Linked DNA regions of Homo sapiens. The protein of the gene in region 6 purifies or fractionates together with the protein of the main gene of each other region. This does not show direct contact. Each region holds a gene or a part of one and is shown on either strand. Other genes may lie near its edges. The genes, in order: RBM34, SEC62, SDAD1, HERC5, RRP12, SLCO6A1 and RBM28.

What was found.
Region 1: the proteins of SLCO6A1 (region 6) and RBM34 purify together in Homo sapiens (affinity purification with mass spectrometry; one large-scale study listed by BioGRID and IntAct). This does not show direct contact.
Region 2: the proteins of SLCO6A1 (region 6) and SEC62 purify together in Homo sapiens (affinity purification with mass spectrometry; one large-scale study listed by BioGRID and IntAct). This does not show direct contact.
Region 3: the proteins of SLCO6A1 (region 6) and SDAD1 purify together in Homo sapiens (affinity purification with mass spectrometry; one large-scale study listed by BioGRID and IntAct). This does not show direct contact.
Region 4: the proteins of SLCO6A1 (region 6) and HERC5 purify together in Homo sapiens (affinity purification with mass spectrometry; one large-scale study listed by BioGRID and IntAct). This does not show direct contact.
Region 5: the proteins of SLCO6A1 (region 6) and RRP12 purify together in Homo sapiens (affinity purification with mass spectrometry; one large-scale study listed by BioGRID and IntAct). This does not show direct contact.
Region 7: the proteins of SLCO6A1 (region 6) and RBM28 purify together in Homo sapiens (affinity purification with mass spectrometry; one large-scale study listed by BioGRID and IntAct). This does not show direct contact.

The regions. Positions count from the first base shown.
Region 1 is NC_000001.11:235,140,751-235,144,250, reverse strand, and holds part of RBM34 (RNA-binding protein 34), read left to right. Parts: intron 1-3,500.
Region 2 is NC_000003.12:169,965,431-169,969,606, reverse strand, and holds the start of SEC62 (translocation protein SEC62), read right to left. Parts: upstream 2,801-4,176; 5' UTR 2,785-2,800; coding exon 2,749-2,784; exon of another isoform or gene 1,016-2,748; intron 321-1,015; exon of another isoform or gene 224-320; intron 1-223. UniProt on the Homo sapiens protein: Mediates post-translational transport of precursor polypeptides across endoplasmic reticulum (ER). Proposed to act as a targeting receptor for small presecretory proteins containing short and apolar signal peptides.
Region 3 is NC_000004.12:75,963,446-75,966,945, forward strand, and holds part of SDAD1 (protein SDA1 homolog), read right to left. Parts: intron 2,378-3,500; coding exon 2,319-2,377; intron 767-2,318; coding exon 690-766; intron 1-689.
Region 4 is NC_000004.12:88,502,119-88,504,390, reverse strand, and holds part of HERC5 (E3 ISG15--protein ligase HERC5), read right to left. Parts: intron 160-2,272; coding exon 1-159.
Region 5 is NC_000010.11:97,366,841-97,370,340, forward strand, and holds part of RRP12 (RRP12-like protein), read right to left. Parts: intron 3,435-3,500; coding exon 3,327-3,434; intron 2,743-3,326; coding exon 2,585-2,742; intron 293-2,584; coding exon 201-292; intron 70-200; coding exon 1-69.
Region 6 is NC_000005.10:102,489,002-102,492,501, forward strand, and holds part of SLCO6A1 (solute carrier organic anion transporter family member 6A1), read right to left. Parts: intron 1-3,500.
Region 7 is NC_000007.14:128,341,109-128,345,380, forward strand, and holds the start of RBM28 (RNA-binding protein 28), read right to left. Parts: upstream 2,801-4,272; 5' UTR 2,686-2,800; coding exon 2,568-2,685; intron 1-2,567. UniProt on the Homo sapiens protein: Nucleolar component of the spliceosomal ribonucleoprotein complexes.

The DNA.
Region 1 (3,500 bases), on a different chromosome or scaffold from region 6:
GGATATACTCTTGTCTAATTTGCTCAGCATAATGATTTTGAGGTTTGTTTTTTTGTGGGGGAGGGTTGGTGGAGGGGAACAGTGTCTTCTGCTGTTGCCCAGGCTGGAGTTCAGTGGCACGATAATGGCTCACGGCAGCCTTATCACCTGGGCTCAAGCAGTCCTTCTGCCTCAGCCTCCTAAATACCTGGGACTACAGGTGCTCGCCACCACACCCGGCTGATTTTTAAGTTTTTAGTAGAGCCAAGGTGTCACTAATGCCCAGACTGGTCCTGAACTCCTGAGCTCAAGTAGCCCTCCTGCCTTTGCCTCCCAAAGTGTTGCAATTACAGGCTTGAGCCACCGTGCCTGTCTGAGATTTGTTCTTATTATTGCAATGCATTGGTAATTAATTCGTTTTTATTGCTCAGTAGTATTCCCTTGTATGACAGTATTTGTTTATCCATTCACCTGTTTATTGTGTTGTGTTGTATTTATTGTGATGTATTGTACTGTATTGTACTGTATTGTATTGTGATGGAGTCTTGCTCTGTCGCTCAGGCTGGAGTGCAGTGGTACCATCTCGGCTAATTGCAACCTCTACCTCCCGGGTTCAAGTGATTTTCATGCCTCAGCCTCCCAAGCAGCTGGGATTACAGACACATACCACCATGCCCAGCTAATTTTTTCATACTTTTAGTAGAGATGGGGCTTTGCCATGTTGGCCAGGCTGGTCTAAAACTCCTGACCTCAGGTGATCCGCCCGCCTCAGACTGCCAAAGTGCTGGGATTATAGGCGTGAGCCATCGCACCCGGCCCCATTCACCAGTTTATGAACATTCAGGTTATTTCAGCCTTTGGCTATTATACATAAAACTGCTAAAAAAAATTTGGGTACGGATCATTTCTTTTGAGAAACTGCCTGGTCGGATTGCCAGATCTTACGGTATATTGTAACTTTCTAAGAAGCTGCAAAATTGTTTTCCAAAGTGTTTGTACCATTTTACATTCCTACCAGCTATCGATGAGAATGTCAGTTGCTTCACATCCTCACCAGCACTTGGCATTGTCATTTAATTTTAGACATTCTGAAGGTTTGTCAACCACAGTGACTAAAAATGTTAGGCATCTTATGTGCTTACTATTTGTATCTATTCTTTGGTGAAATGTTGGTACAAAAATTTTGCCCATTTTTTAGTGACTTTTAAATTATTTTTATATGGTTGTAAGGAGTTATTTATATATTCTAGATATAACACCTTTTCCTGCTATGTGTGTTTCAGATATTTTGCTCCAGTTTGTGGCTGGCTTTTTTAGAGGTGTCTTTTTTTTTTTTTTTTTTTTTGAGATGGATCCTTGCTCTGTCACCAGGCTGGAGTGCAGTGGTGCGATCCCAGCTCACTGCAACCTCCGCCTCCCGGGTTCAACTGATTCTCCTGCCTCAGCCTCTCAGGTAGCTGGGATTACAAGCGTGCGCCACCACACTCGGGTCATTTTTGTATTTTTAGTAGAGACGGGGTTTCACCATGTTGGCCAGGCTGGTTTCGAACTCCTGACCTCAGATGATCCACCCACCTCTGCCTCCCAAAGTGCTAGGGTTACAAGCATGAGCCACCACACACGCCCAGAGGTGTCTCTTAAAGATTGAAAGTTTTAAGTTTTATTGAAGATCTCATTTAGAGAGTGCTGTTGTTGGCCAGGCACAGTGGCTCACGCCTATAATCCATTACTTTGGGAGGTCAAGGTGGGCGGATCACCTGAGGTCAGGATTTTAAGACCAGCCTGGCCAACGTGGTGAAACCCCGTCTCTACTAAAAATACAAAAATTAGCCAGGAGTGGTGGCGTGCGCCTGTAATCCCAGCTATTCTGGAGGCTGAAGCAGGAGAATCACTTGAACATGGGAGTTAGAGGTTGCAGTGAGCCGAGATCATGCCATTGCACTCCAGCCTGGACTGCAAGAGAGAAACTCCGTCTCAAAATAAAAAAAGTGCTATTGCTTGTCAGTTGGCTTGGTAGTCTGGTGGGAGTGGGCGCAGCAGGGTCTCTGCTGTCTTGTCTTAGTGTTTCCGTGTCTCAGGAGTGCACCTGATCAGGGCTTTTTTCCCGGGGCAGCCAAGCTGTGCCAAATGCCTTGTACCTTTAGTGGGGATTATGCAGAGGATGTTTCCCACCTCTCCCCCGGTAGCTGGACTCCTCCCTTCCTCCGGCTGTAGGGGTCTTCTCTGTGCCCTGGAGTGACAGGGTTTGCTATCCCTCCCCTAGCAGCTTAGCCTTCTCCTCCATCAAGAGAATGTGTCCGGAATTGGTGGGTTCTTGGTCTCACTGACTTCAAGAATGAAGCCGCGGACCCTCGCGGTGAGTGTTACAGCTCTTAAGGTGGTGCGTCGGGAGTCTGTTCCTTCTGATGTTCGGATTTGTTCGGAGTTTCTTCCTTCTGGTGGGTTCGTGGTCTCACTGGCTCAGGAGTAAAGCTGCAGACCTTCGCAGTGAGTGTTACAGCTCTTAAGGCAGCGCGTCTGGAGTTGTTCGTTCCTCCCGGTGGCCTCGTGGTCTCGCTGGCTTCAGGAGTGAAGCTGCAGATCTTTGCGGTGAGTGTTACAGCTCATAAAAGCAGCGTGGACCCAAAGAGTGAGCAGTAGCAAGATTTATTGCAAAGAGTGAAAGGACAAAGCTTCCACAGTGTGGAAGGGGACCCGAGTGGCTTGCCACTGCTGGCTAGGGCAGCCTGCTTTTATTCTCTTATCTGGCCCCACCCACATCCTGCTGATTGGTAGAGCCGAGTGGTCTGTTTTGACAGGGTGCTGATTGGTGCATTTACAATCCCTGAGCTAGATACAAAGGTTCTCCATGTCCCCATCAGATTAGTTAGATACAGAGTATCGACACAAAGGTTCTCCAAGGCCCCACCAGAGCAGCTAGATACAGAGTATCGATTGGTGCACTCACAAACCCTGAGCTAAACACAGGGTGCTGATTGGTGTGTTTATAAACCTTGAGCTAGATACAGAGTGCCGATTGGTGTATTTACAACCCCTGAGCTAGACATAAAGGTTGTCCAAGGCCCCACCAGAGCAGCTAGATACAGAGTGTCGATTGGTGCACTCACAAACCTTGAGCTAAACACAGGGTGCCGATTGGTGTGTTTACAAACCTTGAGCTAGATACAGAGTGCCGATTGGTGTATTTACAATCCCTGAGCTAGACATAAAGGTTGTCCAAGGCCCCACCAGAGCAGCTAGATACTGAGTGTCGATTGGTGCACTCACAAACCTTGAGCTAAACACAGGGTGCCGATTGGTGTGTTTACAAACCTTGAGCTAGATACAGAGTGCTGATTGGTGTATTTACAATCCCTGAGCTAGACATAAAAGTTCTCCAAGGTCCCACCAGAGTAGCTAGATATAGAGTGTCGATTGGTGCATTCACAGACCCTGAGCTAGACACAGGGTGCTGATTGGTGTATTTACAATCCCTGAGCTAGACATAAAGGTTGTCCACATCCCCACCAGACTCGGGAGCC
Region 2 (4,176 bases), on a different chromosome or scaffold from region 6:
GTTTATCTGAAAAACGAGGGTGTTGGGTGAGATCAGTCAGCTGTAGGATCACCACTCTGCTTTCATGTTAAGACTGAATTTATGAAAAAGGCTTCCAAACAAACCCTACTAGATCCTTTTAAACTCTAAAATTTCTTGATACCAGGATTGTAAATCAACTTCTACTATGCAGCAGCACATTGTTAATCTATATGTAGTTACTGTATGAGTACATGTAGCTCACTTCTGGTTTTCAGTGACCAGTAATGAGTCCAAGAAGGAAATGTGACAACAGTCCTCTTGCTAGAAACTTCGATGGGACACGAGAATCTGAAATTATACTGAATTACAAAGAAAAAGCAAATTAGCTACTTTTTTTTTTAACCCTGAACTTATTTGTTTGTATCAAACATTTCTCCCCAATGTGCAAAGTATAATTAAAGATCACTGAATCTATTAACCATCTTTCTAAACATAAAACATCAAGCAACAAATGACAGAAACTCAGTTGGTATTACAGACCTTTTGCCTAAAAATTCTACAACAGGATCTTTTTTGTAAGTTAAACTCTGAACTTTTCATTACATTTGATCTTTTTATCACAAGTGATGTATTATAGTTTCTGATTATCTGGAATGATAAAACTGAGGTACTTTCTAGGCTAGTATATTTTCATAAGTGTGTTAGGCTGCATGAAAGTAGTACTCTAAGATCTCTCACAAACATTTTATACAGCCATGTAGAAAATTTCAAGGACAGAAAAATAAATGTCACTTAATTTTGCAGTATGCCCAGTAGATTTTAATAATCAATCCTCAAATAATAGAAAGTAAACAGCTATACTCTACATAACTCCCAACCTAATAGTTTACTGAATAGAGGGTTGTTAATCTTTCTTCAGCATATCAAAGAGTAGTTAACAAAAAATAAAATAACAATCCAATCTAAATCCTTCATCCTGGGTAAGGAGTAGAATAGAAGGGAGGGGCTGCGTGCCAAACACTTTTAATAACTTTTAATAAATAAGTTGACTCACCTATTATTTTCACAGCAATCTTAAAGTTTTTCTTTTTTCTTGCTTTTTTTTTTTTTGAGGTAAATATGTTTTCTTACCGATGCAGACAGGGAGGTAAAAATTAACTTGCTCAAAGTTACTCAGCCAATAATTGGTGGAGGTGGGGTACAAACAGGCAGTTTGGCTCAAGTTTTAGCTCTCTGCCACTGTCACATTACTCCACAGCCTCTGTTTAATATAAGATCACAACTAAATAAGAGCAGCTATTCAAAAGGTGAATTATATAGCCCTTACAACAATATTAAAGAGCAACTGGAATTGTAAAACAATGTGTATTGAAGGGCATAAAATTGTACTGTCAAGTGTAAATCTAAGGAGTTCTGTAAGTACAAATCTGACAGACAATTTCAATATACAATCTAATAAAATACTGTATACCCACGTCAGAGGAATAACACTAACTCTTGAAAGATTAAGAACAGTATAATTAGAAACTTCTACTGATCTTAAGACCTAGTCTTATCTGTCTGAACTCGAAATCTGCCTCTTTCTAATTCCCTTCTGCACCCTGTTCGGAACTACTTTATTTCTGCCAAATTCCAAAATTCCAAATTTACTGATCATGTGTGTCTTTTTCACAGCACTTAAAAAGTTTACAGAAGAATTTTAACTTGCATAGCTCAAAACATCTGTATTGTACGCCAATAAATCGATAAACTTAAAAAAAAAAAGAAGGGATAAAATGGAAGAAAGAAAAAATCATTCTAAGCAATGAAATAGTAAGGAACAGAAAGGCAATGATGAATGTAACAATTTATGATTATAGTAACAATTTACTACATGTGATCAATTTGAGGGCTTATGAAGGTTTCTCAGCACATCAGCTGATGAGACGACTAATAAATATCCTGAGTCCAAGATGTTCTACATAATTAATCCTCTTGGCAAAGAACAAGAACCAGGGAAAATCGCAAGGAAGAAATGCACAAATGACACGCATGTGGAATTAGGGGGAGATGTTATGTACGTTACTACGAGGATGACACACTGGCATGTGAAAGGTTTCTGGGCTCCACCAGCTCGTTGCAGCACCAACGAGGTTGTGGTTGTTTACACCACGTCGCCCGGAAAAAAGCCGGCAAGCTTCAAGTGGACTATTAAGTTAATAATATTGAAGGGAAAGAAGGGCAACGCAACTGAACATCTGGATGAGCAGATCCCTGCCTAGGCCCCGAGGCAGCTGACCAAGTCCAGATCATTCCCCCTTACGGTCTATGCGCACAAAGAACCAGCTGCTTTAGGTCAGTCCGCCGCCTCCTGCTACCCCTATTACCGTGGCCTTAATTTCAGGCCAGCTAAGGCCAGAGGATGGGGTGAAGGGAGGGGAGGAGCCCCGGGAAGGGTCAGCGTCTGCGCCCCAGGGGAGGCTGACCTTCCAGCTCAGGCCCGGGACAGCGCGACCACAGGAACTCCAGGCCCACAGCCGCGCCTCCGCAGCCGGATTCTGAGCGCGGCGCCTCCTTCCTTCCCCTGCTGCTCCACCACCACCTCCGTCTCTGTCTCCGCCGTCGCCAACACCGCCCCCCCTCAGGCCCCTCACAACGCGCAGCCTGCAGCCAGCTGCCTCGCGGCGGAACCCCACCCCACCCCACCCCACCTCGCCCTTGCTTTCGCTCGCCCTTTTAGGGGGCTTTCCCCGCCCCTTCCACTATCCAGCGCGCCGAAGCCCCCTGCCCAGAGCTCGGCTTTGCTACCTGGATCCGCTTCTTGTGTCTCCTGCGTTCCGCCATGTTGGCCGCTCCGCCCGGTTCCCTCTGACGTGGAGCGAGGAGGGGGCGGTGGAAACCTCGCGAGAACGCGCCCCGAGGCCCGTTATGTAATCCGCCGGCTGGCGCCCCTGGAATGGGGAGGTCGGCCGCCTGGCGGGGCCAGCGGTCCTTAGCGGTGCCTTCTCTCCCCTCTTCCCTCCGCTCCTGCTGTGCGGGAACTGGAGAATCGTTAGGACGTGGAGGAAGCAGAGAAGTGGATCAGAGAACAGGAGGGCTGGGAAGAGTCCTGGTTTCTCAATCCTGACTGAGCATCTGAATCACCTGAGAAGCTACTAAAATGCAGATTCCCCGACCCCATCCCCTTAGAGTCAGAGTCTGTGCATTTAGGGTGCGGCCTTTCTCAGAGGGATCGACTGAGACCTACTGAACCCTAGAAGTCTTTACCTGAGGCAGTTCCTGCAATGTACTGTATATTTCATGACATTCCATGTAAAAGATGACAAGACCGAGACCGTTGAGTGACAGAGATAAGAACTGACTTATCTAAGGCTCCACAGGTGGTAGATGGCAGAGCCGAGACCTGAGCCAATTATCTTTTCTCCTGCACTGTGCGGGGTAATACAGCTCGTTTAAAACAAGCTGGAGTCTCCATTCCGTTTTCCGCGTTGCTTCTCACAACTCACTGTTAGAATCCAGAAGTAAGAGAACCCGGGGAAGCGTAAGGAAGATGAATAGGACAAAGATTCTAAGAAGGTGGGAAGGAAGAAGGCTGCAGTCTATTTCAAGTCTGGTGAATTTCAATCACTGTAGCCTTTATTGTTATTTTAGAGCCACCTAGACCAAAAGAGAAGGAGCTCAAATTGCTGGTAAGTGCTTAGATAGAAATTCCCTTGACTGACTTTATAGAGATCTTTAAAGCGTTTTTAATTGTAGAAAATTGGGAAAATTCAGAATAGAAAGATGTTCTTTTTTTTTTGATGCTGAGTTTCGCTCTATATTGCCCAAGCTGGAGTGCAGTGGCGCAGTCTCGGCTCACTGCATCACCGAACTCCTCGTCTCAACTGATCTCCCTCCTCAGCCTCCTGAGTAGCTGGAACTACAGGCATGAGCCACCACACCTGGCTAATTTTTACTTTTTTTGTGTGGAGATGGAGTTTCCTTATGTTGCCCGGGCGGGTCTTGAACTCCTGGGCTCAAAACGATCCACCTGTCTCTGTCTCCTGAGTAACTGGAACTACAGGCGTGAGCCACTGTGACCGTTCAGTTTATTTTCTTATAGTATTCTGACTTTGTGTGTGTGTGTGCATGTGTGTTTGTATTTATATTTTTTCCTGTTTCCCAAATTGAGATCATATGCAATAAGGCAGCTGCTTTTTTCACTTAATGTTAGGTTGTAAGCGTTTATTATACCAT
Region 3 (3,500 bases), on a different chromosome or scaffold from region 6:
GGGGATGGCATTGAATCTATAAATTACCTTGGGCAGTATGGCCATTTTCATGATATTGATTCTTCCTATCCATGAGCATGGAATGTTCTTCCATTTGTTGGTATCCTCTTTTATTTTGTTGAGCAGTGGTTTGTAGTTCAAAGAGGAGAGACTCTTAAGAAGTGATTAGGCCTAATGTTGTTATCTTGGGAGAAGGTCCCTTATCACCAGTGAGTTATAAAAAAGTGAGTTTGGCCCTCTGTTGGCTCTTGTGCTCTCTTCCCCTTGTGCCTTCTGCCAATGATGCAGCAACGAGGCCCCCACCAGGTGCCAGACAGACACCAATGCCATGCCCTTGGACTTCCCAGCTCCAGAACTAGGAGCCAAATATTTATTTTATTAGCAGTACAAAGTTTACGGTGGGAGATCAGAAGAAAAGCACTTAGTTTGCTAATCAATTATTCATCTGTAAAAGTAAAACTGCTAAAAAACAAAAATGCTAATTAGAAGGAAAAGTATCTTTTCTCTGGCTCCCTTCTCAAAATTCTGACCAATAAAAAAATTATCAAGCCTCCCAAAAAGACTGAAATATATTTTAAACCAATTTTATAGAGGTGATACTACCAGCTACAATCTTACATCTTGGTAACTTATAGCAAATCTAGTCCATTAAACAATGTATCTTCTGCCTCCAACCAGATTCTACATACCCTACTGTCATGACTTCTCCAGAGTTCTTGTCGGTAACAAAATTGTTTGCCACAGTCATAAGCAATGATTGAATAATCTGAATTGGAAACAAAAAAGAGATGGGTGCTGATTAAATGTCTGCATACACAAACACATAAGAATGAAAGGACAATAGATTATTCATAGTGGAAAACCCAGCCTTCCACCTTCAGTTTAGGAATTGGAAGTAATCAAGATTAAGGAAGACAGAAGAAAACACTCCACTTAGGAATTCAGTGTTTTTCTTGGCTATCCTCAGACTAAATCAAAGAAAGGAATTACTCTATAAATTTACTAATATTCTTGACCTCCCCTAGTTATACAAAATTTGCTTATTAAAGAAAATCAGAATTCTAAACAACTTGTCTGAAAGAAACTTCTTTTTATGAGACGTACAACTGAACTTCTGTGTAGATCCCCTTAAGAGTTAGTGTCTCTTCTATCTATTAAAAGAAGAAAACGGTGAGGGAAGGGGGGACAGTAACCCTTGTGGGAAAAATGACCCTTGTTGTGGGAAGTCAGAGACCCCGAATGGAGGAACCAGCTGAAGCCATGGCAGAAGAACATAAATTGTGAAGATTTCATGGACATTTATTAGTTCCCAAAATTAATAATTTCTTATGCCTGTCTTTGCTGCAATCTCTGAACATAAATTGTGAAGATTTCATAGACATGTATCATTTCCCCAATCAATACTCTTGTGATTTCCTATGCCTGTCTTTAATCTCTTAATCCCGTCATCTTCATAAACTGAGGATGTATGTAGCCTCAGGACCCTGTGATGATTGTGTTAACTGCACAAATTGTTTAAACAATATGAAATCTTGAAAAAAGAACAGGGTAACAGCGATGTTCAGGGAACAAGGGAGATAACCATTAGGTCTGGCTGCCTGAGAGCCAGGCAGAACAGAGCCATATTTCTCTTCTTTCAAAAGCAAATAGGAGAAATATTGCTGAATTCTTTTTCTAAGCAAGGAACAGCCCTGAGAAAGAGAATGTGTTCCTAGAGGTAGGTCTCTGAAATGGCCGCTCTAGGGACATCTGTCTTTTAAGGTTGTAGATAAGGGATGAAATAAGCCCCGGTCTCCCGTGGCACTCCCAGGCTTATTAGGATGAGGAAATTCCCGCCTAATAAATTTTGGTCAGACTGGCTGTCTGCTCTCAAACCCTGTCTCCTGATAAGATGTTATCAATGACAATGCGTGCCCGAAACTTCATTAGCAATTTTAATTTCGCCCTGGTCCTGTGATCTCGTCCTGCCTCCATTTGCCTTGTAATATTTTATTACCTTGTGAAGCATGTGATCTCTGTGACCCACACTCTATTCTTACACTCCCTCCCCTTTCGAAAATCACTAATAAAACCTTGCTGGTTTGGAGCTTGTGGGGCATCACAGAACCTGCCGACATGTGATGTCTCCCCTGGACGCCCAGCTTTAAAATTTCTCTCTTTTGTACTCTTTCCCTTCATTTCTCAGACCATCTGACAAGAAATAGAAAAAAACCCACGTTGAATTATCGGGGGCAGGTTCCCCCGATAGACCCTGAAGTACCTAACAGTAACACTGTCATCCATGCCCTAGGTCCAGAAGTCAGGTTACAGGTTCTCACCTCTGGGGGTACTAGGTGATGAGATGCTTGTGCAGCAAACAGAAGGATCTTGGTTACTTCTGAAAACATAAGAGAACAGAAAGGTCATGGTCAGTGTATCACCCTGCCTCTGAGGACCACAGCAAACATGGCAAGCTCATTCTGGTCTAAATGGTATTGCTGCGTATTCCACCTGGAACACTCAATCCCCAGATATCTGCTTGGCTTACCCCCTCACTTTCTTCAGGTCCCTACTCAATAGCTGCCTTATCAAAAAGTCTCTCCTGACCACACAATGTAAAACAGAACCCGTCCCGACACTCCCTATTGTCCTTATCCTGCTTCCTTTTCCTTCAAAACACTTATCTTTACCTGGACATATTATATATAGCACATCTACATCTGCCTCCAGATGTAAGCCATGAGGGTAAGGACCTTGTTTTACGTTTACTGTGGAATTCGTACTGTCTTAATGCAGTGCCTGGCATAAAAATCATTAAATAAATACTTGCTGAATGAATGCATACACACACACACACACACACACACACACACACACACACACACACACTGTCTCTTTTCAAAGGGGCAGCATAGCATAGGTAACAAACAAGGCCACTGGCAAAAGAAGTGAGGTGAATCCTGATTTTCCATTTATTTGCTGAGTGACTCTAGTCTTTTTTTTCCCTCTCTTTGTATACCTCACAAGATTAATGTGAGGATTAGACAAAATGACGTATGTAAGGCACTTAGCACAGTGCTTGGTCCATGTTAGATACTGAATAAATGTTAGTTTCCTTCCTACTTTGGTTCAGGTTCAAAGACAAGAACAATCATCTCTTCTTTCCTGCTTTTGTGTTGTTTTTCATTGAGAATGCATGCAAGGTCAATGTGAGCAGTGAGATCAAATCTTAATATCTATTATGAAGATGCAATAAAACGTCAATTTTTTAAAAAAGAATTTTCCATGAGTATTTACAGTATTACAAGAAGACTTGCTTTGAGAAACCAATTTGTTGTTGTTGTTTTCTTTTCTTTTCTTTTTGAGACAGAGTTTTGCTCTGTCACCCAGGCTGGAGTGCAAGGGCACAATCTCGGCTCACAGCAACCTTCGCCTCCTGGGTTCAAGCGATTCTGTCTCAGCCTCCTGAGTAGCTGGGATTACAGGTGCCCGACACCACATCCGGCTAATTTTTGTATTTT
Region 4 (2,272 bases), on a different chromosome or scaffold from region 6:
TCTGTATTTCCAACAATCACATCCTTCAGTTCTTCGGGGTGGAATAATTTGATAATGTCTTCGTCGCACATTTTATAAAATCCTCTCCGAAATTCTTCATAAACCGCCTTTACAGAGTCGTTGAAAATGTAATTGATATACTTAGAAACATAGTCTCTCCTTTAATAAAACAAAATGTTATTTCCACTTACTGCAATATCCTGAACAAAATGGTGAGGGGCTAAAAATAAAAGCTAGAATACCTAACAGTTATTGAGTACCTACCATGTGCCATGGACTGTCATAGTTACTAGAGATTATCTAATGTAATTTTTTTTTTTTTTTGAGACGGAGTCTCGCACTGTCACCTGGGCTGGAATGCAGTGGTGCGATCTTAGCTTATTGCAACCTCCACCTCCTGGGTTCAAGAGATTCTCCTGCCTTAGCCTCCCAAGTAGCTGGGATTACACGTGCCTGCCACCATGCCCAGCTAATTTTTTTGTATTTTTAGTAGAGATGGGGTTTTACCATGTTGGCCAGGCTGCTCTCAAACTCCTGACCTTGTGATTTGCCTGCCTCGGCCTCCCAAAGTGCTGGGATTACAGACGTTAGCCACCGCACCTGGCCCTAATGTAATTTTTATAACAACTCCATCATATGCTGCTTATAACATATATAACTTAAATGTGAAAACACAGATTAAAGTCAAAGAAGGGAAAAAGATACACTATGCAAACATCAACCAAAATGAATGTGGTGTAACTATACTAAAATCAGACAAACAAGACAAGGATAGAAAAGTACATTTACTAATGACAACCGAGTCATATACCAGGAAGGTAAAACAATTCAAAAATCTGTTATGTGCTTAGTAATAACGAAACTTAAAGAAACACTCATATCCACATGTATAGTATAGATGCTAATATACCTCTCCTAGTAACTAACAGAAAAGCAGACAAAAAAATTTTTAAGGACAGAGAAGATTCAAATACAATAAATGATCCAAGAAACCTATTTAGAATATTGCAACAAGATCTCTACATAGAAAACTACCTAACATTTTTTCAAGAATGACAAAAGACGATTTAAACAAATGGAGATTCTGTATTCATGGATTAAAGCCTCATTATTTTAAGATGTCAATTTTTTCAAAAAATTGATCTATAGGTTCAGTATAATCAGTTTCAAAAATTGAAAAAATAAAACCTGATCCATACCTTGCATCTTACTAAAAAATCAATTAAAGTGGATCATAGATCTAAATGTGAGAAATAAAATGATAAGCTTCTAGAAGAAAATACAGGGGAATATATTCATAGCCCTAGGATAGGGAAGTATTCATAAAATAGAAAACAGAAAAACACTATGCATTAAGGAAAATATTGATAAAGTAGACTACATTACAATTACAAATTTTGGTTAATCAAAAGACACATTTAAAAAGTGAAAAGACAAGCCACAGTATGTAAGAAGATATCTGCAGTACATATAACCAACAAAAGACTTGCATCTAGAACTCTCATAAACTGACAAGAAAAAAAAAAGCAACAGAAAAATAGACTAAAGATGAGGAATAATTATTTCTGAAAAGAGGATATCCAAACAGCCAATAAGCATATAAAGTGCTTAACATTAGTAATCAGAGAAATGCAAATTAAAACCACAATGGAATACTACTATATACCCACCAGAATGGCTAATTTAAAAAAGACTAGTAATACTATTAGAGTGGATATAGAGCAATTAGAACTGTCGTACCCTACTGATGAAAGTGTGCCTCCATTTTTTATGTTTGCTTACTAACAGCTTTCAAGTCCCACTCCTCCTTTTTCCCCTTTCGCCTCCAAATCTGCACAACACAGGCTCACTCCCTGGGCACCCACTGATGGCTGCGTGGCTTAAATTTCCCCACGCATGCTCTGGGTTGCATGAGAACCCTGACCCTGGCCCCACGGAACCACCATAAAAACTAAAGCCACCTGCCTCTCTCTTCACTTAAGCCAAACAGATCAGCTTGGATGCCTGTGCAGCTCTCCCCAAAAAGCCCCATTATGTACTAAACATTTTCATACTCTCTGGCTTACATATGGCATCATCCATATCAATATCCAAATGAATTTCAGGTAGGAGCATTGATTCTGCCTGCATGGAGCAAGGGGCAACCACAAGGCACCAAGCACTTCTCCCAGTTACATACCAACAGAAATGCCTGCACATAAACAAAACACATGTACAAGAATGTTCACAAGAGCATTATTCATAATAGTCCAAAACTTGAAATACACTATGT
Region 5 (3,500 bases), on a different chromosome or scaffold from region 6:
TCAGCTTTCCGGATGTTGACCAGGACTCTGTGGTACTCCTCGGGCAACAGCCTTTTCACCAGCTCAAATCTGGAGGTGGCAAGGAAGGGCTGGTGAGAGGCACTGGCCAGACAGCACGACCCAGATGTAGTGTCCCTGGTAGGACTGGAAATCCTCGGCCCCTCGCTTGCCCTACCCCCGCCCCTGCTCAGTGCACAGACCCAAACTTGCGGATGAACTTGGTGAACAGGTTCCGAAGCTTCATGCGGAAGTGCCGCCGCATGTCATCTGAAAGCTTCCCAATGGCTTCCATCTGCCGGACAGAGCACCAGGCTTTCAGGGAGGCGAGCCTTCCATGCTGCGCCCCCTTTACTGCTGTCCAGCCCAGGGACGCAGCATGATCAAGCCCAGCTGAGGGGAGGGTTAGCGCGGCCCTGCTCCTGGCCCACACCCTGGCCCAGTCATGCTTCCCTCGGGTGGGCAGGCCCCATCTTTCCCCTGCACCCTCCTTCAGGACACAGGCCTGAGCACCCTCGCAGGATGAGAGCTTTAGTCTTCTCAACAGCACTTGGTACTTGACATATATCCTCTCCTTGAATCCTTGGACTACCCCTGAGATACATGCTATCACCCCCTATTTATAGAAGAGGACACGGCGGCACAGAGGATAAAGTGTTTGCTAAATGGCCATAGAGGTGGGAGTTCAGCCCAGACTCATCTAATGCTGCGGCTCCCGCTTTGCCCCTAGCACCCCAAGATTTCTCTTGGTCCCCTATGTCCCTTCCATCTCACTGCATTCTGCTCTGGCTGGATTCCTCTTAAGCCTTCATCTGGCCCAGTTTGGGTTACATGTGCAGGTGGCAGATCTTCTTATCTCCAGTGACTCCCAAACCGGCTAGGGGATAGGGTCCACGTCTACTCCTTTTTTTTGAGATGGAGTCTCGCTCTGTTGCCCAGGCTGGAGTGCAATGGCACGATCTCAGCTCACTGCAACCTCCACCTCCTGGGTTCAAGCAATTCTCCTGCCTCAGCTTCCTGAATAGCTGGGATTACAGGTGCCTGCTATCACGCCTGGCTAATTTTTGTATTTTTAGTACAGACAGGGTTTTACCATACTGGCCAGGCTGGTCTTGAACTCCCAACCTCAGGCGATCCGCCCACCTTGGCCTCCCAAAGTACTGGGATTACAGGTGTGAGCCACTGTGCCTGGCTTTTTTTTTTTTTTTTTTGAGACAGAGTCTTGCTCTGTCACCCTGGCTGGAGTGCAATGGCATGGTCTCGGATCACTGCAACCTCCGCCTCCCAGGTTCAAGCAATTCTCACACCTCAGCCACATGAACAGCTGGGACTACAGGCGCGCACCACCATGCCTGGCTAATTTTTGTATTTTTTAGTAGAGATGGGGCTTCACCATGTTGGCCAGGCTGGTCTCGAATTCCTGACCTCAAGTGATCCACCCACCTTGGCATCCCAAAGTGCTAGGAATATAGGTGTGAGCCACCGCTCCTGGCCTCCCCAACCACTCTTGGAAGGGCTTCTATAAATCCCTTTTTTTTGAGACAGAGTCTTGCTCTGTTACCCAGGCTGGAGTGTAGTGGTGCAATCTTGGCTCACTGCAACATCCGCCTCCCAGGTTCAAGTGATTCTCCTGCCTCAGCCTCCCGAGTAGCTGGGATTGCAGGCACCTGCCACCTCGCCCAGCTAATTTTTGTATTTTTAGTAGAGATGGGGTTTCACCATGTTGGCCAGGCTGGTCTCAAACTCCTGAACTCAAGTGATCTGCCTGCCTTGGCCTCCCAAAGTGGTGGGGTTACAGGTGTGAGCCACTGCAGCCGGCCAGGGCTTGTATAAATTCGAATAACTCCATGATGGATCACTGCTCTAGCTGTTCTCCCCACCTTTGGTCCCTAGTAGGCTGCAGGCTCCGAGGGCAGCGGGAGGGCATGCTGATTCTCATCTGTCCCTTCCTATCTTGAACCCAAGGCCAGACCCAAAGAAAATATGCAAGAGGGACCCAGAGGTCTGATGTGACTCAAGCCAGTCACACATGGGAAACTGAGGCAGTAGGTACAGTGCACAGCTTGGCTGGAAGCCTACGCCAGCCTGGGCAAGGCTTCTCTTGGGCAGGAGAGGGCCAGGGACCCTATACCAAGGGGCTCTTCAGATCCTTCTGCAGCCCAGCAGGGGACCCAAAGGAATGGCCTCTAACCAGCAAGGTCAAAATGCAAGATGGGAAAAAAAAAAAGGCAAGATGAGGGGGTCCTGTGGAGGGAGAGCCCAGCGTCTGAGTCCCATGATCTGGAAAATCTCTGGCCCAGTTTCTCCATCTGTAAAATGAGGAGTGGCCCTGCCCATGGGCCTTTGCCCTGAAGAGCCCCTGTTGCTTTCCATGTAGGGCTCTGGGGTGAAGAAAGCCACCTGGGCAGTGTGCCCCCTCCTCGCCTCCACCTGACAGGCATTCCCCTATGGTCCCTTTTAGGGCTCCTTAATGACCTCTGGCTACAAAAAAAATAGTTTGAAACTTGCTGGCCTCGAAGCTTGCCAGGTCCATGCCAACAGCTCAGAGGCCACCCTGCTACCTGCTAAGGGGAACGGGGACACTCACCACCAGCTGCACATGTTTGGCCAGGTGCGCCACGTCCATGACAGTCACTGCCACCTTGATGAAGCCCAGTGCAGACTTGACCACGTCACGGGTGCGGGAGGCCAGAAGCAGGCACACATTCTCCAGCAGCTGCTCCACTGTACTGGTCCCCATCAGACCTGTGGCAGTGAGGGGGTCACTGTCTAAGACACCCAGGACCCCACTCAGACCCAAACCTTCCCCACTGGAAAACAGCCACTCAAGTGTCAGTAAAAGCTGACATTGAGAGCCTTTCCGTATGCCCGGGATGGTTCCAATCACGCTCCATGGAGTGGTCTTGGGTCCTTTCGTCACCCTGAGGTGGGTGCTATTTCTTGCTTCCATTTTAGAGATAAGAAACTGAGGTGCTAAGAGGCTAATCAAGCTGTTCTAGGTCTCATGTGGTTGCCAAGAGGCAGGACTAGGACTAAAATCCAGGCATCAGCCCTAACCACCTCCTAACCACTCTGACAATGGGATGCAGGGCCACTGGACTGCACAGTCACACGTGGGGACAGACCTGAGGAAGGTGCCTTGGCATAGCCGCAAGGGCGGGAGGCAGCGACCCGCAGGAAGGGAGACAGGGAGGCAAACTGGGCTGGGTGTGGCTTTTCTTACTTCCTCCAGGCACCTTTTCCCAGTTCCAGGAGCCACTTTATCCTGACCTTTTGGGCATCTTCCTAATCTGAGGGCTTCTCAGGCCTTCTAGGAAATAAGCATTTACCTTTAAACTCGAAAAGGAGGTGGGTCAGGGCCAGGATGCTGCAGCTGACCATGGTCACCGCGCCCACCAGGCCAGGGTAGATCAGGACGAGGTAGCACTGCAGGGCCTCTGGGGACAGAGACCAACGTGGGTCAAGCAGGAAGGACCCACCAGGTAGGGGGGCTGAGGGCCAGA
Region 6 (3,500 bases):
GACAGAAGCATAGAAAGCATAGAAGCATAAAAGTTAGAGTCCCTTTGGTTAGGGGTATGCCCCACTGCTATTTCTCCCCTTTATTTTCTTTAAAAAGTCATCAAGAAATTGAGCAATGCTCAAGAGCTTCTGCAATAGTTCCCAAGAGCTGCATCAGCCTGCAGGAGCAAAGTGGGTGGTTTTTAAATGCTCAGCAGGATACACGCAACCTCAGACCTGCAAGGATTTGCTTGCAAACATCTCTGGAGAAGGATGACTCTCCTCTCCTTCTCTTCAAACTTCCAAACATCGCATACGTTACCCTCAGTGGAAAACTCTAAAACAGAATCATATGGAAAAGGGGGATTTCCAGAAATTTAAATTATTACCCAGAATATTTAAGGAACTCAAACAATTCAATAGCAAAACAAACAAACAAACAAATAATCCAATTTAAAAATGGGCAAAAGCCCTGAATAGGCATTTCTCAAAAGAAGACATAAAAATGATCATCAGATCTATTTTTTTTAATGCTCAACATCACTAATCATCAGGGGAATGCAAATCAAAATCATAAGATATCCAGTTACAATGGCTGTTATCAAAAAGACAGAAGATATGTATTAGCAAGGATGTATAGAAAAGGAAGCCTTTATACACTGTTGGTGGGAATTTATGTAAGAGTAACCATTATAAAAACAGTATGGAGGTTCCTCAAAACTAAAAATAGAACTACCAAATGATCCGGCAATTCTGCTACTGGATATATATTCAAATGAAATAAAATCAGTATGTCAAAGAAATATTTGCATCCCCATGTTTATTGAAGCAATATTCATAATAGTTAAAATATGGACCAACCTAAGTGTCCATTGACAGATGAATGGATGAAGAAAATGTGGTATATATACATAATGGAATATTGTTCATCCATAAAAAAGAATAAAATCCTGTTTTTTACTACAGCATGGATAAAGAACATCATGTTAAGTGAAATAAGCCAGACATGGAAAGACAAGTACTGCATGTTCTCACTCATATGTATAATCTAAAAAGGTTGATCTTACAGAAGTAAAGAGTAGAATAATGGTTACTAGAGGCTGGAGAGGGTGGAAGGAGGGATGCACAGAGGTTGGTCAATGAGTACTAAGTTACAGTTAGATAGGAGATATCAATTCTGGTGCTCTGTTGCACAGTAGGGTGACTAGAGTCACCCTATTAACAATAATGTACTGTATACTTCAAAATAGCTATAAGAGAGCATTTTGAATGTTCTCACCACAAAGGAATGATAAATATATGAGGCAAAGGATTGCTAATTATACTGATTTGATCATTACACAATATAAACATAAATTGAAATACTACATTTTATCCCATATGTATGTACAATTATTATATGTCAATTAAAAAATAAAATAACTATGATCAATATGCTAAAGACATGTATTAGTCCATTTTCACATTGCTATAAAGAACTACTTGAGACTGGATAATTCATAAGGAAAGGAGGTTTAATTGACTCACAGTGTGTCTGGAATTGGTGGGTTCTTGGTCTCACTGACTACAAGAATGAAACCGCGGACCCTCACGGTGAGTGTTACAGTTCTTAAAGGCGGCATGTCTGGAGTTTGTTTGTTCTGATGTTCGGGTGTGTTCCGAGTTTCTTCCTTCTGGTGGGTTCGTGGTCTCCCTGGCTCAGGAGCAAAGCTGCAGACCTTCATGGTGAGTGTTACAGCTCTTCAGGTGGCACATCTGGAGTTGTTCGTTCCTCCTGGTGGGTTCGTGGTCTCGCTGGCTTCAGGAGTGAAGCTGCAGACCTTCGCGGTGAGTGTTACCGCTCATAAAGGCAGTGTGGACCCAAAGAGTGAGCAGCAGTAGGATTTACTGCAGAGAGCGAAAGAACAAAGCTTCCACAGTGTGGAAGCGGACTCAGGGGGTTGCCACAGCTGGCTCCGGTAGCCTGCTTTTATTATCTTATCTGGCCTCACCCACATCCTGCTGACTGCTCCATTTTACAGAGAGCCGAGTGGTCTGTTTTGGCAGGGCGCTGATTGGTGCGTTTACAATCCCTGAGCTAGACACAAAGGTTCTCCATGTCCCCACTAGATTAGCTAGATACACAGTGTCCACACAAAGGTTCTCCAAGTCCCCACAAGAGTAGAGTAGCTAAATACAGAGTGTCCATTGGTGCATTCACAAACCCTGAGCTAGACCCAGGGTGCTGATTGGTATGTTTACAAATCTTGAGCTAGATACAGAGTGCTGATTGGTGTATTTACAATCCCTCAGCTAGACATAAAGGTTCTCCAAGTTCCCACCAGACTCAGGAGCCCAGATGGCTTCACCCAGTGGATCCCCTACCGGGGCCGCAGGTGGAGCTGCCTGCCAGTTCCGCACGGTGCACCCGCACTCCTCAGCCCTTGGGTGGTCGATGGGACTGGGCACCGTGGAGCAGGGGGCGGCACTCGTTGGGGAGGCTTGGGCCACACATGAGCCCACGGAGGTGGGGGAGGCTCAGGCATGGCAGGCTGCAGGTCCCGAGCGCTGCCCCACAGGGAGGCAGCTAAGGCCCCGCGAGAAATTGAACACAACAGCTGCTGGCCCAGGTGCTAAGCCCCTCACTGCCTGGGGCCTGCGGGTGGCCCGGTGGCTCCGAGTTCAGGGCCCACTGAGCTCACGCCCACCCAGAACTCGTGCTGGCCCGCAAGCGCGGTGCGCAGCCCCGGTTCCCGCCCGTGCCTCTCCCTCCACACCTTCTTGCAAGCTGAGGGAGCCGGCTCCGGCCTTGGCCAGCCCAGAAAGGGGCTCCCACGGAGCTGCGGCAGGCTGGAGGGCTCCTCAAGCATGGCCAGAGTGGGCGCCAAGGCGGAGGAGGTGCAGAGAGCGAGCGAGGGCTGTGAGGACTGCCAGCACGCTGTCACCTCTCAACAGTTCTGCAGGCTGTACAGAAAGCATGGCTGGGGAGGCCTCAGGGAGGCCTCAGGAAGCTTACAATCATTGTGGAAAGTGAAGCGAAAGCAGTCACATCTTACATGGCCAGAGAAGGAGGAAGAGAGTGAAGGGGAAGTGCTGTACACTTTTAAACAACCAGATCTCTTGAGAACTCACTATCACAAAACAGCAAGGGGGAAGTCTGCCCCCGTGATCCAATCACTTCCCACCAGGACCCTCCTCCAACATTGGGGATGACAAGTCAACATAAGATTTGGGCAGGGACACAAATCCAAACCATATCAGGACTCTATTGGAAAGAATGGACAATATGCAACAACAGATAAGTAATGTAAGGAGAGAGATGGAAACTCTAAGAAAGAATCAAAATAAAATGTGAGAAATCAGAAACACTGCAGCAGAAATGAAAAAAAATGTCTTTGATGACCTCCTCAGTAGACTGGATAGGGTCAAGAAAATACTCAATGGGTGCACTTCCAAGATGGCCGAATAGGAACAGCTCCAGTCTACAGTTCCCAGCGTGAGCAACATAGAAGACAGGTGATTTCTGCATTTCCAACTGAGGT
Region 7 (4,272 bases), on a different chromosome or scaffold from region 6:
TGCCTTTACCTGAAAAGGACACATAGTTCATATGCTCTGCTTCTCTTTCCACTGCATTTGAATCTCCTTCAGGGTATAAGCCCTTTGACACAGGACACTGATCTACATAAACTGGTTAAAGCAACATAACATCAATTTTTCTCTTCTCTTGAACTCCTTATCATAAAAGCTGCCCACTCACCTTTCAGAAAATGAGCACAAGAAAATTCATAGCCCTTCATGATCAGTACAACCAAAAGTAAAGCAGCTGAAATGTAAAAGAGTTTGACACCCAAATGAAAGGACATACAGTAAATACCACACATTTTACATGTCTGCATAAAGCATGCTCACATACATTTAGAGTCCCTGACAACCCTGTGAAATTATTCCCATCTTAAAGAGGTGAAGTGACATGCACTGCTATTGAGGAAGACTTCATTCCACATACCCTCCCTCCCGTTTCACTGAGTGCAGCACTCTTTCCAGTACATATCAGCTGTCTGGATAGGAAAGTGCATAGTTTTTTAAAAGGAAGTAAGAGATTTTTAAGGATTTAGACCAAGTACACAAGGTGTAAGGTAAGATTGCATGTAGCCTATATTCTGAGGACTCAAAGGAGAACTCCCATTCAATGGCCTATTCTTCCCTGGAATACAACCACCTGGGTACGGAATGCTACTTACACTGGAACCCAGTACATACATATATTCTTTATTTAAAACTTAAAAGTTTTACAAATACTTATCCTTTACCATATATGGACGTACTCCTATACTATTTAATTTTTTAAGAACTCTAGGCCAGGCGTGGTGGCACATGCCTGTAATCCCAGTGCTTTGGGAGGCCAAGGCAGGAGGATCATTTGAAACCAGCCTGGACAACGTAGTGAGACCCTGTCTCTACAAAAAATATTCAAAAATTGGCCAGGCATGGTGAAGCACGTCTGTAGTCATAGCTACTTGGGAGGCTGAAGTAGGAGGATTGCTTGAGCCCAGGAGTTTAAGGTTACATTGAGCTGTGATCGCACCACTGCACTCCAACTGTCAACAGGGTTGACAGAGCAAGACCCTGTTTCTAAAACACAACAAAACAAACTCTAGTCATGACCCACTCAAGACCCACTAATAGGTAATAATCTGCAGTTTAATAAACATTACTGTACAGGACTTTCGGTCCCTATTTTAAGTACATAAGCTTTTGTCCTATTCTCCAACAGTCTATTGGCAACACACCAGCCAGAGAGAGAATCTTTCAAAACGAATGCCAGATCACACTTACTGCTCTCTGCTTAAAATCAGTGGCTTCCTATCTCTGAGTAAAAGCCAAAGTCCTTGCAATGGTCTATAACATCCTACATGAGGCGGGCGGATCACCTGAGGTCTCGAGTTCCAGACAACCCTGGCCAACATAGCGAAACCCCGTCTCTACTAAAAATACAAAAATTAGCCAGGTGTAGTGACACTCGCCTGTAATCCCAGCTACTTGGGAGGCTGAGGCAGGAGAATGGGTTGAACCAGGAGGCAGAGGTTGCAGTGAGCGGAGATCGTGGCACTGCACTCCCGCCTGGGCGACAGAGCAAGACGCAGTCTTTAAAAAAAAAAAAAAATCTTACATGATCTGCTACTCTAGATCTCATCTCCTAATTCTCTTCCCTTTACTCACTTCAATCCAGTCACCCTGTCCTCCTTACTACTCCTCCAATATACCAAAAACACCTCTGTTTCAGTACCTTTGAGCTTGCTGTTTTCTCTTCCTGAATTGTTCTTCCTCCGGAGAGGCATGTGTTCACTCTCTCACCTCAGTCCGTCCTTCTCTGGCCACCCTATCTATATTGCCACTCTTCACCCCCTCTCCCCACTATACACATGCACATAGACTTCCTAACCCCTTTCCCTGGCTTATTTTTCTCCTTAGCATTTGACATCATTTTCACGGTTGGCTTGTTTATTGGCTCGTTTATTGGCTCTCTTCCCCACCTTGAAGACATAAAATCAAAGATTTTTTTGGTTTGGTGTTGTGCACTGCTGCATCCCCAGGACCTACAACACTTCCTGGCACACAGTAGGTATTAAGTATTTGCTGAATAAATGAATGAACAAGTGGATAGCATCCTGGCTAAGATGTCCAGGTCTGAGGATCAAATCGGGGGTCCACTACTTAACAGCCGTACAAACTTAAAGTTACTAAATTCCCCTAAATCCCGGATTCCTGTCTGTAAAATGACATTAAGACTCTCCATCCGGTAAGATTGCTGAGAAAATTAAATGAGATAACCTGTATCAAACTGATCACTGTACCTGCCAATCAGGTGACTCTCAATAAGTCTTACTGATGCTCTAGTTAACTATTTTCATTTTTAGCGCGCATAATCAACAGAAAGCGCTATAGAAACGTAAGGGAATGCTTTGCCCTTCATAAACTGACTCCTATGAACGCATCTAAAGCAGAATCAGTTTGGAAAAGAAACTCAGTTCCCTGTCCCTTCTCTTCGGGGAGGGTAAAGAATGATACGGCTCCCTGAAGTTTGGGAAGGTGCCCTCGATCGCAGGAAACCCCAGCCCTATCCTCGACCGCCCCGCCCCTACCTTTTTCAGTCACCACGAAGCACTGCTTCACCGGCCCCACCTGACTGAACAGTTCCTCCAGCTGCTCACTGCGGGCCGAGGGCGGGAGGCGGCCCACAAATAAGGTCAGGCCGGCCATGAGACCGGGAAACCCAAAGCGCGTGAGGACGCGAGCAAACTAGGCCGGCGCACGCGAGCCGAAACGCTGGCTTTGGTAGGACAACCAAGCTCACACGCCGAGAGATTCCGGAAGTGCTCGTTGCCCAAAAGAGACCGGAGGAAAACATGGTCGGGAGGGGGATAAAAGGTTCCGGAATGAAAAAATAATGGCGCCCCGGGGCGTAGCTTCTGGAGCGGGGCTCCGCCCCCTGCCCTAGCATCGCCCTCGCCACTTTTGTGTAAACTTGGCATCAATAATTTCTACCCTAGTGTTACAGCTTTTTTAGAATTTGCCTAGCAGGCTTTCTGGTTTTTGCCGGAAGGCCTCCAAAAAGTAATTTTTTTTCTTAATATACAAAATAAAAATAAATAATTTCTACCCTGTTTAAAAATCTCACCTCCAGATCCTCCCCAAAGTTAGCAGGACAGGCAGAAGAAGTCGTTTTTGCCCCGGGCGTAACTCAGGATCTGATATACTGTGGGTGTTTGATATTTTCTGAAGTGCCTCCACAAATTCCCAGATTACGTGCATAAAACACAACCGGAACACTAACACGTAGACATAGATATATCATATACATCATTCGGACGATTCTCATTTTCGGAGAACACCAGCTGTCTGTCACCTCAGCCTCACAAACAAATTGTAGCTACTAAAATACACATAGACACAGATAGTACACAATTATTATTTCAATAAATATATACTGAGCTCTAACTATGAGCCAAGCATTAGGGATAAAACTGGTGAGCAAAGAAATGACAGGGTCCCTGCCCTCATAGAGATTACAGTCTAATGGTGGAAACAGATTTTTTTTTTTGACAGGGCCTCACTTTATCAACCAGGCCGGAGTGCACTGGCACGATCTCGGCTTACTGCAGCCTCGACCTCCCAGGTTCAAGCAGTCCTCCTGCCTCAGCCTCCTGAGTAGCTGGAACTACAGGTGCACCACCACACCCGGCTAATTTTTGTATTTTTTGCAGAGACAGGGTTTCACCATGTTGCCCAGGCTGGTCTCAAACTCCTGAGCTCAATTAGCCCCCCTTAGCCTCCTAAAGTGCTAGGATTATAGGTGTGAACCACCACACCTGGCTGGGAAGACTATTAGTCCAAAAATTCTTACAAATAAATCACAGCACACACACTGCAGGACCACATCAAACACACTCAAAGCAAACATAACATCCAACTTATACACAGAGACCTAGAACCCATGTCCTCCTAGAAACAGAAGATCTTTGTCTCAAGTCAGCTCATCAGACAGACCCAAAGCTGAGAGCTCTTAATTGGCTAGGAAATCTGGGTGCTCCTGGTTCTGGAACACAGAGAGTGTTTGCCATGCCACTGGGCTCAGGACCTGAATAGGTGCAAGAGAGCTACACCTTGCAGAACAACTAGCTCAAAAAAAAGTACCCAAGGCCATTTTTTAAATAATTTTTTTTTTAGCAGACTCTTGCTCTGTCACCCAACTTGGGGTGCAGTGGCACCATCATGGCTCACTGCAGCCTTGATCTCCTGGGCTCAAGCAATACTGCCACCTCAGCCTCCTGAGAAGCTAGGACCACA